Regions from separate parts of the Homo sapiens genome. Here regions 1, 2 and 4 are each linked to region 3. The links come from fine-mapping of genetic effects on gene expression. A gene starts in region 3. Each other region holds a variant in brackets. All regions are shown on one strand. Distances are between the middles of the regions. Region 1 has its middle 34 kb from the start of FAM187B. Region 2 has its middle 33 kb from the start of FXYD5. Region 3 holds the start of FXYD5 (FXYD domain containing ion transport regulator 5). Region 4 overlaps HPN-AS1 (HPN antisense RNA 1).

Region 1 (4,488 bases), 40 kb before region 3:
AGTAAACACGTGCTACACTTTCTTTTCCACTGAACACAACTAGAAAATCCAGACAGAATACATGGCCCAGCTATTTGACAATTTTGGAAAGTCAGTTACAACAGTTGCATTGGGAAAGGAACACAAAAATTCAAAGTGCCACCAAATCAATGATGAGTTTACTATATTATTTTCCTCCTGTATCCCCTGACCTGAACTCAATACAGTCCAAAACTTGGAAATGAGCACTGTGGTGCAGACAGGGAGAAACCTAGGAGAGGCCTGGCTGAAGGAGCAGGAAAGGGTACTCCTAAAGTTCAGAGAGAGTGGGGAGAATTTATTTTCTCCCCCTTTTCTGTTTTCTTTCGAGCAATCCCATTGCAGTAGCAGAGCAGCTGGCAGAAGCCAAAAATTCAGGAAAGGACTTTTCTCTCCATTCAGTGGAAAGGATCAGACTCCATTGCTTTTTTTTCTCCCTCTCTGTTCTCCAACCTCTTGATCCTAGACCTGGCACAATCATGAAATTGGGCAGTTTCTGTCTGGAGGATCAGAAAGGGGAGCCCAGGGAACCAGAAAGTATCGGAAGATAACAGAGAGGGAAGGGCTTGAGAAAGTCACCCCATAAAGTTATTTATGAACTCATGGACTCATCTGGCCCTAATTAGCATGCCGCAGACTGGAAACTGAGCTAATGATTAGACTTCTGCCCAGGGCCCAGACTGACCACTGGATGACACATTTGGAAGATAGATCAGAATAGCATTGCAAATGCTTCAAAAACTGAACTGACATTGGAACTACAGGGCATAGAAGGCAAGTAGGAACTTAGCAGTCTGAATTTACCCAGGTTAACTGGCCACTAAAACAAAACCATCAATATTCTCAATAGGATTTAAACAAGACTCAGAGTGTCATAATATAATGTTCAAAATGTGCAGGATGCAGTCCAAAATTACTTGGCATACAAAGGATACCAAAATTCTTAACTCTCATGGGAAAAGACAATCAATTCATGCTATTGCAATGATGTAAACTTTGCAATTATATAAAAAAACTCTTAAAACAAATATTAAAGATATCAGCAAGGAAATAAAACACATGAAGAAGAAACAAATGGAAATTGTGCAACTGAAAAACACTATAACCAAAATAAAATATTCATCGAATGGGCTCAATAACAAAATGGAGATGGGAGAAGAGAGTCAGTCAACATAAAGATACAACAATAAAAATAACCAAATCTGTATAGTAGAAAGAAAAAAGACTTAAAAAAAAAAATTGAACAGTGCCTTAGGAACCTGTGGGACAACCACAAAGGTCTAACATTTGTATCCCAGAGGCCAGAGGAAAGTGCGGTGCTGAAAAATATTTTGAAGAAATAATGACAGAAAACATCTCAAGTTTAGCAAAAGCCATTGTGACATAATAAGAAGTAATTTTTTTTTTTTTTTTTTTGAGAGAGTCTAGCTCTGTCGCCCAGGCTGGAGTGCAGTGGTGCCACTGAAACCTCTGCCTCCTGGGTTCCAGCGATTCTACTGTCTTAGCCTCCCGAGTAGCTGGGATTACAGGCATGCGCCACCATGCCTGGCTAATTTTTGTATTTTTAGTAGAGACGGGGTTTCACCATGTTGGCCAGGCTGGTCTCCAACTCCTGACCTCAAATGATCCATCCGCCTCGGCCTCCCAAACTGCTGGGATTACAGGCATGAGCCACCGCACCCGGCCAAGAAATAAATTTTGGTCTATGCCTTCCCCCACTTCCTGACACACTGCTCCTAAAACAACTGAAATATTTTTGTATGCTAATGAGATGACTGATGGTTGGGGGATCCAGGACAGCTTCAGAATGAGGTCTCCTTGCCCAGAGAACCAAACACGTGATGAGTGGGCTAGAACTTCTAGCCACACCCCACCTCCATCTCTGGGGAGCGGGACGGGGAGTGAAGGTAGAGTTCATCACCAAAGGCCAACGATGCAATCAATCATGCCTATGTAATGAAGCTTTCCACCAAAACCCTAACAGATAGGGTTCTGAGAGCTTCTGGGTTGCTGAACAAGTGGAAATGCTAGGAGGCAGGTACAGCTGGA[C/A]AGGACATGAAGCTCTGCACCCCTTCCCTCATATCTTGCCCTATGCATCTTCCATCCGGCTGTTCCTGATTTGGATTCTTTGTAACAAGTGGGTAAATACTGATACTGAGCAAGGTTCATTTTGCCTGCACTCAATAAGCCAATCACTGTGGCGAAAGGTTTTGCAAAAAATAAAGGGTTTGTTCATGAGACAGCCAAGTGAGGAGGTGGGTGAATGGGTCTCAAATCTGCCTCCCCAAAGATGGGATTTAGGGATATTTATGAGATAAAGAAGCAGAGTGGTCTGAGGTGTGGAGAAAGGGAATTGGGATAAGAAAAAGTGAGGTAATTGGCAATCTGCACACACATAGTCAAGCCTCATGGCTCTTCATAGGAAGCATGTTTAGAAAATGGTGGCGTTAGTATGATCTGTAGGAAGATCTTTATGGCCCTCTGGTGTCAGAAGCTCACCTCTTGGACATTCACGCAGGCCCAGGTGAAGTGGTCTCAAGCGGCTTGAACTGGACAAGAGCTGACCCCAAATTCATGAAAAATAACTTTAAGCAACTGTTACCATGGTGACCTATACATCAGAGATATTATCTATAAGGAAGATAGTAGATTGCTTAGTTACATGACTTTTAGCTATATAGTTATTAAGATTAACTAGAAGTAAGGAATTAAAAGTAAGTAAGGCAGTTTAAGTTCAGTGGGCTTAATCAAGTTAATTCTCAGTTTCAGCATACAGAGTGGGTTCTGTGAGCCATTCTAGCAAATGACTGAACCCAAGTAAAGGATCTTGTGAACCTGTAATTTGTAGCCAAGTCAGACAGAAGTTGTGGATAACCTGGGAATCTATCACTTATGATTGACATCTGAAGTGGGATGCAGTCTTACGGGACTGAGCCCTTAACTTTTGGGATCTGACACTGTCTCTAGGTAAATAGTGTTAGAACTGAATTGAATTGTAGGACTCCCAACTGCCATAGGAGAATTGCTTGTTTGGGGGGGGAAGGAACCCCACACATCTGGCATCAGAAGTGTTGAGTGCTGAGGGTGAGTATAGAAGAGGAAAAACAGTTTGTTTTCCCTATATACAGACTTAAACCTGCAGATTCAAGGAGCTAAGTGAACCCCAAATAGGATAAACCCACAGAAATCCATGCACAGACAAATCATAATTAAACTGCTAAAAATTAAATATGAAGAAAATATCTTGAAAGAAGAAAAAAAAAAAAAAAAAGAAAAGAAAAAAAACCCAACAAGCCAATACATGTGAATAATTCAAATGATGGCATATTTCTCAGCAGAAACCATGGAAGCCAGAAGGAAATGGCCTAATATTCTTAAAGTGCTGAAAGAAAATAAGTGTCAATCTGGAATTCTATCTCCAGTGAAAATAACTTTCAGGAATAAAGGCGAAATAAAGACATTCTTAGATTAAGTAAAACTAAGAAAATTCATACCCAGCGGAAATGCTGTAAAAAACATTGCTAAAGGAATTGCTTCAGACAGAAGGGAAATGATACCGGAAGGAAACTTGGAACATCAGGAATAAAGGAGGAACAACAGAAGTAATAACTACCTGGGTAAATATAATAGGCTATTCTCCTCTTGAGTTCCTTAAAATCTGTTTTACAGTTGGAAAAAAAAAAAACTATAACATTGGCCATGGAATTTTCATGAATGTGTATGTAATACATGACAAGTATAACATAAGGGGGAGAATTAAGAGACCTACTAGTGCTAAAGTTTTGAGTGATAAAATATTGTTTCTAAATACAGTGTAAAAAGTTCAGTGTGCATTTTGTAATCCCTAGAGTTACCACTAAAACTTATACAAATAGTTATAGTAAAAATCATAATTGATAACTTAAAATGGAAGACTAAACTATGTTCAAATAAGCAAAAAAAATGTCAGGAAAGGAAAAAGAGAGGAACAAAAACAAAATAGGCTGGGCACAGTGGTTCATACCTGTAATCCTAGCACTTTGGGGGGCTGAGGCAGGCAGATCATGAGGTCAGGAGTTCGAGACCAGCCTGGCTAACATGGTGAAACCTCATCTCTACTAAAAATACAAAAATTAGCAGGGTGTGGTGGTGGGTGTCTGTAATCCCAGCTACTCAGGAGGCTGAGGCAGGAGAATTGCTTAAACCCAGGAGGCGGAGGTTGCAGTGAGCTGAGATCATGCCACTGCACTCCAGCCTGGAAAACAGAGCAAGACTCCATCTCAGAAAAAAAATAAAATAAAAAATAAATGAAACAAATAGAAAACACATGATAAAATGGTATACCCAACCCAAACATATCAATTATTACATTAAATGTAAATGGTCTAAATATATGAATTAAAAGAGATTATGAGAATAGATTAAAAAATTCACTTAACTATATGCTCTCAACAAGAAACTCTTTAAATTTAAGGAAATTTGTAGATTAAA
Region 2 (5,095 bases), 33 kb before region 3:
TTATCAATATTAGGGTAGAAAGAGGACAGCTATCACCACAGACCCTATAATTATTAAAAAGCTTATAAAGGAATATCAGTAATAACTCTATACACATAAATATCAAAATTTAGATGAAATGGACCAATTTCTCAAAAACTACCAGCTACTACATTCACCACTGTTGAAATAGATAATATGAATAGTCTAGTAACTATTAAATAAATTGCATGTATAGTTAATGCCATTTTAAAAAATCTCCTGGCCCAGGTGGTTTCAATGGTTTTAAATAAGTAATTTAAAGAAGAAATAGCACTAATTCTTCATAATTTCTTCCAGAAAATACAAAAGGAGAAATACTCTCCAACTCATGTTATGAAGCCAGCATTACCCTGATGACAAACCAGATAGACAGTACAAAAAATAATAATAAACACAACTAAAATACTCCTCATGAATATAGATGCAAAAATACTCAATAAAATGTTAGCAAATTGAACTCGGCAATATGTAAAATGAGTAGTAAACTATGACCGGCCGGGCGCGGTGGCTCACACCTGTAATCCCAGCACTTTGGGAGTCTGAGGTGGGCGGATCACCTGAGATCAGGAGTTCAAGACCAGACTGACCAACATGGAGAAAACTCATCTCTACTAAAAATACAAAATTAGCCAGGCATGGTGGTGCACAGCCTGTAATCCCAGCTACTTAGGAGGATGAGGCAGGAGAATCACTTGAACCCAGGAGGCAGAGGTTGGGGTGAGCCGAGATCCTGCCATTGCACTCCAGCCTGGGCAACAAGAGTGAAACTCTGTCTCAAAATAATAATAATAATAAATGAATAAATACAATAAACTATGACCAAATGGGATTTATACTAAGAATGCAACAATGGTCCAATTTTTTAAAATCAATCACTATTACCATATTAACCATCTAAAGAAGAAAAATCATGATTATATCAATAGGTGCAGACAAAGTATTGACAAAATAAAACACTCATACATGTTTTGTTTTGTTTTGCAAAAAATAATCCTAGCAAACTAGGAATAGAAGAGAACTTCATCAACCTGATAAAGAGCATCAAAAAGCCTACAGCTAATATCATACCAAACAGTGAAAAATGAATGCTTTCTTTCTTAAGATTGGGAACAAGACAAGCATGTTCACCATTTCTATTCAACATCATATTGAAAGTCTTAGCCAGTGTAATAAGTCAAGAAATGGAAGTAAGAGGCATATAGATTGGGAAGGAAAAAATAAAACTGTTCCCATCCCCAGTTGAAATGATTGTTTATGTAGAAAATCTCAATAAATATAAAATCAATCAATAAATAAAACAAAAAACCCCTGGCACTAATAAAGAAATTTTGTAGGAAACACAAGCTAATATGGCAGATGTAAATCCAATTGTATAAATAATAACATTAAATGTTGATGAAATGAACAATTCAATTAAAAGTCAAATATTTCAGACTAGATTTTTTTTAAAAACCAAGATACAGCCAAAAGCTATCTATAGGAAAAACATGTAAGATTCAAAAATGTAAAGTAAAATGATGAAAGACAATATATCAATATATCATGCAGTGACTACAAGAAAGCTGGAGTGGCAATACTAACGTCAGAAAAAATAAGCTTTGTAACAAAAAAGTTATTACAGATAAAGAGAAGCATTGTATAATGATAAGGCGGTCAGTCCATCAGAATATATAACAATATAAACACATATACATCTAATAATAAAGCACCAAAATACATAAAGCAAAAACTAATAAAAATGAATAGAGAAATGAACAAATCCACAATAATAGTTGGAGACTTCAGTACCTCACTTCCAATAATGGATAGAACAACTAGGCATAAAATCAACAAGAAAATGGAAGATCTGAACAGTATTAATCAACCAGATATAACAGACAACTATAGCACACTTCTCCCAACAAAAGCAGAATACACAATCTTCTCGACTGCACGGAGAATATTCTGTAGGATAGAACCTGCACTAGGCAACAAAACAAATCTGTATAAAATTTTGATTTTAAAATTAAAATCAAAATCATGCGGCTGGGCACAGTGGCTCATGCCTGTAATCATAGAACTTTGGGAGGTTCAGGTGAGAGGATCACCTGAGGTCAGGAGTTCGAGACCAGCCTGGCCAACATGGCGAAACCCTGTCTCTACTAAAAATACAAAAATTAGCCAGGCATGGTGGCGATCTGCAATCTCCACCTCCTGGGTTCAAGCGATTCTCCTGCCTCAGCCTCCCAAATAGCTGGGACTACAGGCGCCCGCCACCACTCTTGGCTAATTTTTTTGTATTTTTAGTAGAGACAGGGTTTCACTATGTTGGCCAGGCTGGTCTTGAGGCCAGGCTGGTCTTGAACTCCTGACCTAGTGATCCACCCTCCTCAGCCTCCCAAAGTGCTGGGATTACAGGCATGAGCCATCGTGCTGGCCGTAAATTCTTTTTTTTTTTTTTTTTTTTTGAGATGAAGTCTTGCTCTGTCGCCCAGGATGGAGTGCAGTGGTGTGATTTTGGCTCACTGCAACCTC[A/T]GCCTCCCGGATTCAAGCGATTATCCTGCTCAGCCTCCAAAGTAGCTGGGATTACAGGTACCCACCACCATGCCTGGCTAATTTTTGTATTTTTAGCAGAAATGGGGTTTCACCATGTTGGCCAGGCTGGTCTCGAACTCCTGACCTCAAGTGATCCACCTGCCTTGGCCTTTCAAAGTGTTGGGACTGGCGTGAGCCACTGCGCCCAGTTGAAATAAATTATTAGAAGACATATACTACTGAAACTGATTCAAGAGAAATCAGACAATTTGAATAGTCCTCTAATAAGTAAAGAGATTGAATTAATGACCAAAGACACACACACACATACACACACACACACACACACACACACACACACACACCAAGAACCAGATAGCTTCACTGGCAGATTTTTCTAAAAATTTAAAGAAGAGCTAATACCAATTCTTCTCAAACTCTTGCAAAAATTAAAAAAAGGAGGCAACGCTTTCCAGTGGATTATTTGGGACCAGTATTACCCCAGTACAAAAACCAGAGAAAGACACAAGAAAACTACAGACAAATATCTCTTATAAATATAAATGCAAATATCCTTAACACAATACTAGCAAACTAAATCCAGAGACATATAAAAAGTGTTATAGACCACGACCAAGTGGGACTTATTCCAGGAATGTAACAGTGGCTTCACATCTGAAAATTAGTGTAATACACCATATCAACAGAATAAATTACAAAACCACATGATCATTTTAATGGACACAGAAAAGTCTTAAACCAGATGGCTTCATGAGTTAGTTCAACAAAACTTTTTTTTTCTTTTGAGACAGAGTCTCCCTCTGTTGCCCAGGCTGGAATGCAGCAGTGTGATCTCGGTTCACTGCAACCTCTGCCTCCCAGGTTCAAGGGGATTATCTTGCCTCAGGTTCCCGAGTAGTTGGGATTAGAGGTGCCTGCCAGCACGCCAGGCTAATTTTTGTATTTTTAGTAGAGACGGGGTTTCGCCATGTTGGCCAGGCTGGTCTCGTACTCCTGACCTTAGATGATCTGCCCCCCTCGGCCTCCCAAAATGCTGGGATCACAGGCGTGAGCCACCACACCTCATCACTGCAGCCACTATGGAAAACAGTCCAGTAGTTCCTCAAACTGTTAAAAATGCAGTCACCATTTGACCCAGCAATTTTATTCCTAAGAGAAATGAAAACTTATGTCCACATAATAACAAATACATAAGTTTATTTTCATATTATTCATAATAGCCAAAAGGTGAAAACAAAACCAAATATCTACAAACTGATGGAGGCATAAACAATATTTGGGGGGGCGGGGTCTGTAAAAAAAAAAACAAAAAAAACCCCAATATGTGGTAAATCCACACAATGAAATATTATTCAGCCATAGAAAGGAACATAGTACTGATACATGCTATGATGCGGATGAACCTTGAAGACATTACATTCAGTGAAAGAAGCCAATCACAAGACACCACATATTATATGAATACATTTATATGAAATGTCCAAAATAGGAAAATATATAGAGACAGAGAGTAGACTAGTGGTTGCTTAGGGCTGAGACATTTGGGAACAGGAGGAAAATAGCTATGGAGCATTGGGTTTCTTTTGTGGGGGTGATAAAAATATTTTAAAATTGGTCTGGGCACGGTGGCTCACACCTGTAATCCCAGCGCTTTGGGAGGCCGAGGCAGGTGGATCACGAGGTCAGGAGATCGAGACAATCCTGGCTAACATGGTGAAATCCCGGCTCTACTAAAAATACAAAAAATTAGCTGGGCGTGGTGGCGGGCACCTGTAGTCCCAGCTACTCGGGAGGCTGAGGCAGGAGAAAGGCGTAAACCCGGGAGGCCAAGTTTGCAGTGAGCCGTGATCATGCCACTGCACTCCAGCCTGGGTGACAGAGCAAGACTCTCTCTCAAAAAAAAAAAATGTTTTTAAATTGATCGTGATGATGGCTGTACATATCTATGGATATACTAAAAACCATTGACTTGTACATGATTTTTAAAAATTTTTAATTGCTGTGGGTACATCATAGGTGTATTTATTTATGGAGAACATGAGATGTTTTGATACAGGCATGCAATGTGAAATAATCAGATCGGCTTGTATGCTTTAAATGTGTGAACTGTATGGCATGTGAATTGTATGGTAAGCGAATTCTATTACAAAAATTAAAAAATTAAAATAAGAAAAAAGAGTTGCCCTTTCCATGACAGGAACAGTTCAATGTGGCTGGGCGCAGTGGCTCACACCTGTAATCCCAACATTTTGGGAGGCTGCGATGGGTGGAACACCTGAGGTCAGCAGTTTGAGACCAGCCTGGCCAACATGATGAAACCCTGTCTTCACTAAAAATATGAAAATTAGCTGGGTGTGGTGATGGATGCCTATAATCCCAGCTACTCAGGAGGCTGAGGCAGGAGAATCTCTTGAACCTGGGAGGTGGAGGTTGCAATGAGCCGAGATTGTTCCATTGCACTCAAGCCTAGGTGACAAGAGCGAGACTCTGTCTCAAAAAAGAAAAGAAAATTAAAAAAGAGACAGTTCGACGTAATTAA
Region 3 (5,095 bases):
CAACGTCTGTCCTGGGGAATCAAGGATGAGAAGTCAGGAGGGAGCCTGGTCCCCCTCCTCTCACCACCCCCGCCCTCGCCTCCCTGGTGAAACCTTAGGGGTCCTGTCTGCTGGTGGAATCACTCAGCTTTGGCTGCATCAATCCATAATTCTGAAAGTGTTTTCAGCTATGCCAATGCCTGGGAACCCTTCTTCTAGTCCCCCTCCCCGCCCATCCCTGTGGGATGGGAAAGTCAGTTTAGTCTAGTGAGCCCAGGTGCTAGGGTGAGCCTGGGCCCTGGTTTCAAATCCTGCCCCCAACAACTTTCTTGCTGTGTGACCTGGAACAAGTGAAGTCCTTTCTCTGAGCCTCAGTTGCTTCATCTGCAAAGCAGGGATAATAACTGAATCTACTTCACAGGGCTGTAGATAGGGTGAAATGACACAGAGCAGGGAAAGGGTCTCCCACACGGCTTACCATGTGGTCAGTGCTGGATAACTCCACTGCCCCCATCCTGGTCCTGCCTCTGTACCCTCCAGCCTGGACATCCCAGCAGCCTCCTTCTTGGGCTCCCTGCTCCTGTCTCCGCCCCCACAGTCTGTTCCAACCTGCAGCCAGAGGGAGCCTGGGACCACCTGAGTCAGGTCGGGGCCCGCCTGGTTCAGAGCCCTGCCCTGGCTGCACTTCACTCCACATAAAAGCAAAGCCCTCACGTGGCCCGTAAGTCCTCCTCCATCTGGTCCCATCACTTCTCTGTCCTCTCGTCATCCCACTCTGCCCCTTCTCATCCCAACCCAGCCACCCCACCTGCCTGCTATTCTTAAAACACACCAGACAACACTCAGCCCCCAGACACCTGCAAAGCTCATTCCCTCATTTCCTCCAAGTGTTTGTTGGTCCAAATGTCACCTCCTCAGTGAGGCCCTCCCTGACCACCCAGTTTAAACAATCCTCATTACCTCTACTTTTCTGCAAGCACGTATCACCTCCTAGCACACGATATAATTTACTAACTTGTCTCTCTCCACTAGAGTGTGACCTCTTGTTTTATTCAGTGCTGTTTCCCCAGTGCACAGAATATCTAGCACATAGTAGGTGCTCAATAAATATTTGTCAAATGACTGAACGAGTATATGAAAATCATTTTATGAAGGAGAAATGAGGGCGCCTTCAGTGGGGCATGCACCCTGGGTTCTGGGGGCAGGCAGGACAGTTGTTTTCTCAGCTCCTCCACCCATTCTCCTCTGACACAGGGCACTTCCCTTCGCTGAGCCTCAGTTTCCTCATCAGTAAAATGGGCAAGACAACAGGTGTGACTGACTGTCAGAGGCAAAGCCTAACTGACCTAACACACACCACACCTGCCACACAGAAAGAACGATCAATACCCCCCTGTGGTTCCCATCTTTCAGGAGACACTTTCCAGGCAAGGCTGAGATGTTGCCAACTCTTTGGACTAACCCCAGCTCAACAGCTTTGCCTAACTGTGTAATGCCTGGGGACTCTGGGAGCCTAGGTTTCCTGGCTGCTGAGTAGAAAACCGACACCAATCTCCCCGCCAAATGAAACTCAGTGAGTTCTTCTTGGAGGTGAAATTGGAGGATGCTCAGCAGGACAGGCCCTGGCCAGACTCACTGGAAGCAGCCACCCGGGTCTGAGGTGTCCAAAGAGGGTGTAACGTCGCCCCGCCATAGGGATCCCCACTTCCTGGTGCCGGCTCAGCGGGAGGGTGACAGGGCAGGACAACGTTCACACGGGCCAACCACCCACCCCGCAGCACACGTGGGGCTGGCCTGGCTGGGGGCTCTGGGGCAGGGTGGAGGCCAGAGATGGGTCTTACCTCTGGTGGGGAGAATCAGGCCAACGATGGTGAGAAGACACAGGCGACCAGAGGGCGACATCTGTGGGACCAGGCGATGCTGGGGTCAGCCATGATGTCAGTGAGACCGACCTCCGGCAGCCCCCGGGGATCCTGCAGCCCTTTCCCTGCCCTGAGCAAAAACCTCTGGCTTCCAAGACCCCCTGCCAGGGGCTGACGGCTGGCCTCAGGGGAAAGGGGAGGGTCTTAGGTGGGGATACCAAACCGTCACCCTGCTTCCTTCCCCTGCAGGTCCCCAAAGAAAACAAGAAGCATGAGATAAATGGGTCTTCCAGCAGCTGCAAGGGCCGGCGGGCACTCCTGAAGCAGAGAAACACCTCCCTGCGCCTTCCGCCAGGCGCTTATCCCTCACTGGGACTGACGCAAGGAGGGGACTGGGGCAGAGGAGTAGATAGGAGGCCTCTTCCCTCCCCCAGGGGCCCAGAGCCCGGGAGTCGGCGAGGAGGGGAAGGAGGAAGAGTGAGTAACGCCTCCCGCGCTCAGAGGAAAAAGTGAGTTGGTGTCAGGGGCCGCCTTGCAGGGATGGCGCGCTGGAGAGACCTAAGAGGCACTGGTCCGAGGGGGGTGGCAGAGAGCTGGGGAGACTGAGGCAGGCGGGCGGGAGCGAGGCAGAGCGGCCCACTGTAGCCCAGGAGAGGAGGCAGAGAGATGTGGGCGTGGATGGGGGGCGGAGAGGAGCGGAAGGGGTCAAACCCCTACCCACCTGAGCCCGGCCCGTGGGCAGAGGGGCAGCGGATGGAGGTGGCGCACGAGAGGGACTTACGTCGGAGCTGGGGGTCCTAAGCCGGCAGCCTCGTGGAGAGAGGGACGCGGCGGTGGCTGCTGCGTCCAGGCGGAGGGTGTGGCCAGGGGAGCGCGAGCGGGCGGGGACCCAGACGGGCTCAGTCATTTCCTCTTGGGTTTCCTGGCTTCAGAGCCCGGGGTGGGAGCAGGAGGGGGAATCGCTGAGGGCGACGGGGGGCAGGGGTGAGGGCATAGTGGTGGGAGAGGGTGGGAACGGGGATGGGGCAGGCAGGTCTAGGGTGAGTGGACGCCTCTGAGAGAGCAGGGGGAGAAACGGGAGGGCTCTATTCTGGGGTCGCTGGAGGAAGGGAAAGGACAAATCCGGAGGTGTTGAGGAAGGAGAAGGGATTGAAGGGGGGCATCTCGGGGCACTGGGGGAGGAGAATGAAGAGGGGGCGACTCCGGGCACGCAGGGGAGAGCTACCCCAGGTTCAGTTCTGCACCCCTACCCACACCGTGCCCCACAGATGAGAACACACAGACAGAACAGAGGAAAAAACCAAATGCACATTTATTAAGCTCAAGACATGGACACTGAGGGGCCAGGGGGACGGATCTTCGGGGATGAGACAAGGAGGTGCAGGGGGGCCATACACGGGGATGCTGGGGGTGCTGGGCCGGGATGGACTCCCGGATCCCAGGAGCTGGAGGCCTGAGGCCCTGGGTCTGGGGTGCAGACGGGCTCTTTGGGGGATCGTCATTGCCAAGGCCTGGAGAGGGACAGCAGGGTGCAGCGGCTCCAGCCTTGGGGTGGGTGGGGCGGCTCATTCCGGGGAGCGCTCCCGGCGCGCGGCTGGGTCCCCACCGCCTCCACCCGGTCCTCAGGCTCCCGCGCTCAGGCAGGGTCGGCAGCGGAGTTTCCTCGGGAAGGTGTTACACGCCGCCGCCACCAGGGGCTGGGGAGAGAGGGGGTGCGTGAGCCACTAGAAAGGTGGAAACTGCCTCCCTCCCCACAGCTCGTTGGCTCTCCATTCCCCGGCACCATGGAAGCCAGACCCCAGGGACTGTCACCCCAGAGCTAACACTGAGGAGCTGTCTTGCCTCCCACACTCTAATGTCTTGTTCCCTTGGGGACACCTCCTGGCTGCTGTCATGGAGAGAAACACCTGCTACGGGGCTGGCGACCCCAGACCCAACCTGGGCTTTTGGGGCTATCCGCCTGCCAGAAAGGGAGTCCCCATCTCCCTTCCCATTTGCAATCTCCTCCTACACCCTCACTCCTTTCCTACACTCCCTGTCCTGAACATTTGGATACAACGGGAAGTCCCCCATTCCCCACCCGCTGCAGACCATCATTCACCTAGGATAGACCAGAAACCTGTGCAAAGTCTTCAGCTGTGCCCCAGGTGACAAGGCCAACCCCCATGCTGCCCCACGCATCCATAAGTGCCTTGTTCATGTTTTAAAACTCATTAAATAAACATGAAACAGGCCAAGCGCTGTGGCTCACGCCTGTAATCCAAGCACTTTGGGAGGCCGAGGATGGCGGATCGTTTGAGGTCAGGAGTTTGAGACCAGCCTGGCCAAAATGGTGAACCACCATCTCTGCTAAAGATATAAAAATTAGCCGGGTGTGGTGGTGTGTGCCTGTAGTCCCAGCTATTTGGGAGGCTGAGGCAGGAGAATCGCTTGAACCCAGGACGCAGAGGTTGCAGTGTTGTAATAAGCTGAGATCGTGCCACTGCACTCCAGCCTGGGCAACAGAGGACACAGCAAGACTCTGTCTCAAAAAAAAAAAAAAAAAAAAAAAAAAAAAGGAACGTGAAACAAATTCCACACCAAATACTTCTCAACCATTGAATAACCCGTGTCCCCCTCCCGCATTTTTTTTTTTTTTTTTTTTTTTTTTAGTTATAAGAACTTTATAAGAGACACAGAAATTCCCATTTCTGTTCTTTTACAAGTCTCCAGAAAGGCTGCATTTCCACTAAAAACAGGTCAAGTTATTTTTACATAATTAAAATTAACAGCCTCAAAGAGATCAGTCTTTCGTTGACATGCTTGCCCTGCATCCCTCTCGCTCTCCCTTTACACTTTCCATGCTTACACCCATTCTCCCTCCTCCACCCTCCACGCCCTCCTCCTCCCATCCTCCTCCCCTTCCTTCCTGGGCTCCTCCTTCCCACATTCTCCCCAACACCTCCGTCCTCTCCACTCTCTCCCCTCCTGTTCTTCCCAGCTTTCTTCTCCATCCTCACATTCCCTGCATCCCATATGTTCTTTTCCAATGTGAATTCTAAAATCTGCATTCTATTCATCTCTCTTTTTGTTATTTTGATGCAACTATTCAGAAACCTTCCCTCCCTCCCTCTGTCCCGCTTCCTCGGCTATTTCATCCTGGATCTGCCTGGCTGAACGATCAAGTCTGGAAAGCCTCTCCCCGTCTTCCTCAGTGCTCCCTCTCTCTCCCTCCTGATTGACAGAGCTCCTCCCACATGGGGCCCTTCTCTTCA
Region 4 (5,095 bases), 80 kb after region 3:
TCCTTTCAAGTTCACAGTCACAGGTACGACACCAGCCCAGGTGTGCTCTGCTGCCTACATGCAGGGGTGAGTGCAAGTGGAGAGGTGTGGTTCACCTGTGGGGTATTGGAGGAAGGAGCGCAGGAGGTATGAGTGTAGACAAGCAGGGATTTGAGAGGGAGCCTGATGTCCCAGAAGGTAAGAAGTGGGGAAGCACCGTAGGCTCAGTAGGCTCAGCAGATGGGGCGGCCAGTGAGGTCAACCAGTCAGGAAACCAGAGGGTGGGCGGCAGAAACTGGGTTGTATAACAGAGAAAGGTGGGGTCAAGGGGACAGGTGGCGCTGAGGCCCCGGAGGGCTGCATCGGTGGGCAATGTGAGGTCCATGGCTAGGATGAGAGCCCGGGAGGCTCTGTCTGCCTGCGACCATCGTCGGCCTCAGCGAGTCCACCAAGTGCTTCGCCATCTGCTCGCCATGTGTCCTTCTGTCCATCTAGCCCCCTTCTGCCGTCTGTCTTGCCACCTGCTCTGGTCATCCCAACGTCACTCTGTCTGTCTTTCCATCAACCTGTCCACCTGTCCAACCCTCCTGTCTTCCTGTCCATTGGCCAGCTGGTCTGTCTTCTTGTCCGTCTCTCTGCCTGTTATTCATTTTGTCTGTCTGTCTGCCTGCCTGTCCATCTAACATTTGACTCTGCCCGCCAGTCTCTGTGGCAGTCTCTGGGGCTGTGGGCACTTAGTGTGTCTGCGACTCCACGGCTGTCCGGGTTCTATCCTCCAGCCCGGCTCCCAGCCCCACTCACCAGGATGTGTTCTATTGGGCCATGCGATCTCACTACCACATCCCAGCCATGGATGACCAGCCGCACCAGGGCCTCTGCCACCGGGCCTCCCCTCCTCAACTCCACCTCCACGCAGATGCCAGGAAGCAGGGCCAGGACGAAGTGGCAGGGCTGGAGCCACAGCTGCCATCTGGAGAGTGTGTGCGGGTGGCCCTGGGGACCCAGGTGGCAGGAGGGGCCACGAGGGGCCCAGCAGTGTGGGAAGGGGTGTGCAGGCATACACTGCTGCCCCACCTGGCAGCCCTCTGGCCAGCACCACACCCGGCCTTCCTGCCCACAGTGTGGTGGCTGCAGGCACTGCTGTTCCACAAAGAGGCACCTAGGGGCAGGAACTGGGCTGTGGAGAGAGTGGGCTGCGGTGGGGGTGTCTGGGGCTGAGGCTTGAACCTCAGGTCCTGAGGAAGGTGGGGACTGGGGGTTCTGACTCCTGGATCTTTTTTTTTTTTTTTAATTTGAGACAGAGTTTCGCTCTTGTTGCCCAGGCTAGAGTGCAATGGCGCGATCTTGGCTCACTGCAACCTCCGCCTCCTGGGTTCAAGCAATTCTCCTGCCTCAGTCTCCCAAGTAGCTAAGATTATAGGCATGTGCCACCATGCCCGGCCAATTTTGTATTTTTAACAGAGACGGGGTTTCTCCATGTTGGTCAAGCCTCGAACCCTCAACCTCAGGTAATCCGCCTGCCTCGGCTTCCCAAAGTGCTGGGATTACAGGCATGAGCCACCCCGCCCGGCCTCTGATTCCTGGATCTAAGGATGGAATGGACTGAGGGCTGACTGGACTCCTGGGTCTTGGAGGAGGAGAGTGTGGGGCCTGGGCTCCTGGGCTCTGTGGCTGGGCCCTGGGAGCAGGCAGGTCTGGGGCAGGTTCTCCACCCTTCACCATTGTAGGTGCAGCCGTTGGGGACTGCAAAGCTGTTGATGCAGAAGGCCTAGTGCCTGGGGATGCCCACATTGCTGGTGTCTGCCACATTCAGGATGCCTGAGGTCCGGGAGCCAGGAAGGGTGAAGTAGTCCCTCTGTCGGCCGCTGTTGAAGCCTGCCTGGGGGTGTCATTTGGAACAGGGTCAGCCCACCTGCGTCCTCACCCTCCCCAAGGACCCAGGGAGGCCCCTGTGGGTTCCCCACTCACCTGGGCCGCAATGCCCCCCAGGCCGTGGTGGGGGCTCCCACCGCTGGCCACCCCCATGGTCCACTGGATGTCCTTGTGGTGAAACAGCACCCAGGAGGGGCCGCTGCCCAGGGCCAGCACCTCCTGGAAGGTGTTCACCTGCAGGGCAAGCGCCAGGAGCCAGGGTGTCGTGGGCTGGTCCAGGGGCACCCAGGACCCTCCTCACTGCCCAGTCCTCAACCGAGCTCCATCTGCACCACTAAGCTGGCTGCTTCCAGCTGTGCCACCTCCTGGGCCCCCATCCACACCACATCCCGGGCCCCTACCCATGCCACATCCCAGACCCCCATCCACGCCACCTCCCAGGCCCCTGTCCACACCATGTCCACAGCTGCCTCTGCTGGCACCTGTGCCAGCCTTCCTTTCACATCCCCCAGTCTCGATTTTTCTGCTCTGCTCTCATCCCCTCTCTCTCTCCGTCTCTCTCCTTTTCCTATTCTCTGTCTCTCCATCTGATCATCTCACTCCTCTCGCTTGCTGTCTTGCCTCCTCTCTCTCGCCATTTCTCTCCCTGTTCGTGTCTTCCCTCTTTCTCACCCATTTTCTCTACCTCGCTGCATCTCCATGCTTCCGTCTCTCTGTCTCTCTCTTCCCGCCCCCTCTATCTCTCCCTCGTTCCCCCATCTCCGTCTCTCCTCCGTGGTGTCTCCTCCTTACCCAGGAATCCAAGCCCTTCTTCCCAAGGGGTTGGGCCAAACAGCCTCAGCCTGGGCCCTTCTCTGCCACCCGCTTCCTCACCTGGGGACCAAGTGCCCCGTAAAATGGAATTTGGTCCCACATGGCCACCAGCAGGGCGCAAGGGGTGGGCGGGGCATGGGGGAAGGCTGAGGCCAGGTCTCAGGCCACCTGCTGCGGCAGCTCTGGCTGGCGGCTCTGCCGGTACCACATCTGGCCCCTGCTCAGTGTGGACCCATTGGCCCAGAACGGGACTGCGAAGGCCTGGCCCATCTCCTGGGGAAATGCCTCCAGTGTGAAGAGAGCCACAGGCTCCCCGAAGGACACCAGCCCATTGGTGCAGAACTGGGGGAAGTGAGGAAGGGCAAGACCCGCAGGGGGGTGTTGGCAGGGCAGGGG[A/G]CAGAAGAGGGACAGGGCCCGCCCCAGGAAGACAGAGGACGAAGCCAGAAGGAGCCAGGAGCTATAGATATAGACAGGCTCCGAGTCAAGAGTGGGGTGGGGAGAAGAGAGAGAGCCCAGGGACCGCACGGTCAGGGCCAGGGCACTCACATAGGCCGTCCCGTGTGTGGCTTCAAAGAGCATGAAGGGCTCCAGCAGCCGCAGCTCCTCAGAGAAGTCATCATCCTCTGCAGGGAGGGCCTGATCCCCACACTCCAGCCCATAGGGGTACAGGAGCGAGGCTGGGGACACGAGACCACTGAGGCTCCCCTCAGAGCCCCAGGGCAGGGCTGTGTCCCCTCAGTCCCCAAGAGAAAGCTCCAGGTCCCCTGAGGGACTCCAGGGTGGGGCCATGGCTCCTCAGACCCCTGGAGCCCTCCCTGCCTGTCCACATGGCCCTGTCCTCTCTCCAGGTTAGGGAGCACATCCATTCTCACCTCTGATCTCCTTGCTCCAAGTCACTTGGTTCTGTAGGACTGAGGGGAAGGATGTCAGCTAAGGGCTGGGGCCCACGTGGCACAGTCGACCCCCTTCCAGAGTCCCCACTCCTACTCACCCACCAGCAGAAGCCACAGTATCCCCATGGTGGCTGCAGGTGCTGCGGGCCAGGCGGGCTTATACCAGGGCAGAGGTGGGGCCAGGGTGGGGACGGGGCAGCTGGAGCTCACCTTCCATTGTTCGAGGGTCCAGGGGGCCTGGGGGTCTCCCAGGGATCCTGGTTCCCATCCGGTCTGCCTGAGGCTGGGCCAGGTCTGGGGTTGGTGGGCAGGGCAAGGGAGGAAAGAGGGGATGGAAATCTTCCAGGGCTTTCCCAGGGGGCCGGGTTGCCAGACCCTGGAGGAACCCCCCACCCATTAGCAGGGCTGGGCACAAGTCAAGCGATCCACAGTGGGAAAGTTGAGCCACTGCTTGGTGAAGGGCCGCTGCTGACAGACAGCTGAACATGCAGGGAGCCTCTTCCCATGGGGCCCTGCTGGTTCTCTTGGAGCAGGTTAGAGATGAGCACACAGCATCCAGGAACGGAGTGCATGTGCATCAAGCAGGGCCAAGATGTGTGGCTGGGGAGACTCGTGGGCTGCTGGCCAGCCCCGGGGGCCCAGGGGTGGGCATCTGCAGGGCATGGCTGGGGCTGCCATGGTGGATAGTCAAGGTCAGGCATTTAGGAGTGTTACTGGACCCAGAAGGGGAGATTCGCCTGGAGACGTGAACGGGGAGACGGGGAGGAGGAGCATACAGGCAAGGGGGCTCGTTACTGTGCACCTGTGAGATTCACGGACCACCCTGGTGGAGGAGGCTCAGAGTTAGGCACTGGGGACTCCATCTTCAAAGCAGTGTCCCAAAGGGGTGCTCCAGACCCTCAAACCCCAGACAGCCCTTTACCTGGTCAAACCACATGGGACAGAGGGTCACCTGTGTTCCTGGACCAAACTGAGGATTAGGCTGCTATTTCTCATGGCCCAGTGATGAGATGCAGATAAACTGGGAGAACAGGGAGGTTTTTTTTGTTTTTGTTTTTGTTTTTGTTTTTGTTTTTTGAGACGGAGTCTCGCCCTATCGCCCAGGCTGGAGTGCAATGGCACTGTCTCGGCTCACGGCAACCTCTGCCTCCCGGGTTCAAGCAATTCTCCTGCCTCAGCCTCCCAAGTAGTTGGGATTACCAACACCCACCACCATGCCTGGCTAATTTTTGTATTATTAGTAGAGACGGGGTTTCTCCATGTTGGTCAGGCTTGTCTCGAATTCCTGACCTCAGGTGATCCGCCTACCTCGGCCTCCCAAAGTGCTGGGATTACAGGCATGAGCCACCGCACCCAGCGAAAAGGGAGTTTTTATTTCTGTAACTGGTTATAGGGTGAAAGCCTGGAAATTGTCCCCAGACCAACTCAAAATTACAAAGTTTTCCAGAGCTTATATACCTTCTAAGCTATATGCCTGTGTGTAAGTGTAGTTTCTTCAGACCCCCAATTAAACTTGTTTAATCCTAAAAGGGTCCTGT

Evidence for each region. PIP is the estimated chance that this variant, and not a neighbour inherited with it, causes the effect.
Region 1: its variant is the best candidate, but not a certain one, in a credible set for the expression of FXYD5 in whole blood (INTERVAL, PIP 0.71).
Region 2: its variant is the best candidate, but not a certain one, in a credible set for the expression of FXYD5 in whole blood (TOPMed, PIP 0.57).
Region 4: its variant is the best candidate, but not a certain one, in a credible set for the expression of FXYD5 in nasal epithelium (TOPMed, PIP 0.89).

Annotation. Positions count from the first base shown.
Region 1 is chr19:35,192,214-35,196,701 of GRCh38, reverse strand. No RefSeq gene overlaps it. Among named protein-coding and RNA genes, the nearest start is that of FAM187B, 34 kb to the left of the region's middle. The variant C/A (reference allele first, on the strand shown) is at 2,068.
Region 2 is chr19:35,185,677-35,190,771 of GRCh38, reverse strand. No RefSeq gene overlaps it. Among named protein-coding and RNA genes, the nearest start is that of FXYD5, 33 kb to the right of the region's middle. The variant A/T (reference allele first, on the strand shown) is at 2,536.
Region 3 is chr19:35,152,337-35,157,431 of GRCh38, reverse strand. It overlaps FXYD5 (FXYD domain containing ion transport regulator 5), which reads right to left and starts at 2,697. Exons shown (of 9, transcript NM_014164.6): 1 at 2,623-2,697; 2 at 1,821-1,881; 3 at 1-11. The coding sequence starts at 1,881. It overlaps FXYD7 (FXYD domain containing ion transport regulator 7), which reads right to left. Exons shown (of 6, transcript NM_022006.2): 6 at 3,130-3,538. The coding sequence ends at 3,516. RefSeq lists enhancers at 1,757-1,926, 2,865-3,729, 4,679-5,095.
Region 4 is chr19:35,072,788-35,077,882 of GRCh38, reverse strand. All of the region lies in intron 3 of HPN-AS1 (HPN antisense RNA 1), which reads left to right. It also overlaps the pseudogene LOC100421064. Among named protein-coding and RNA genes, the nearest start is that of HPN-AS1, 31 kb to the left of the region's middle. The variant A/G (reference allele first, on the strand shown) is at 3,061.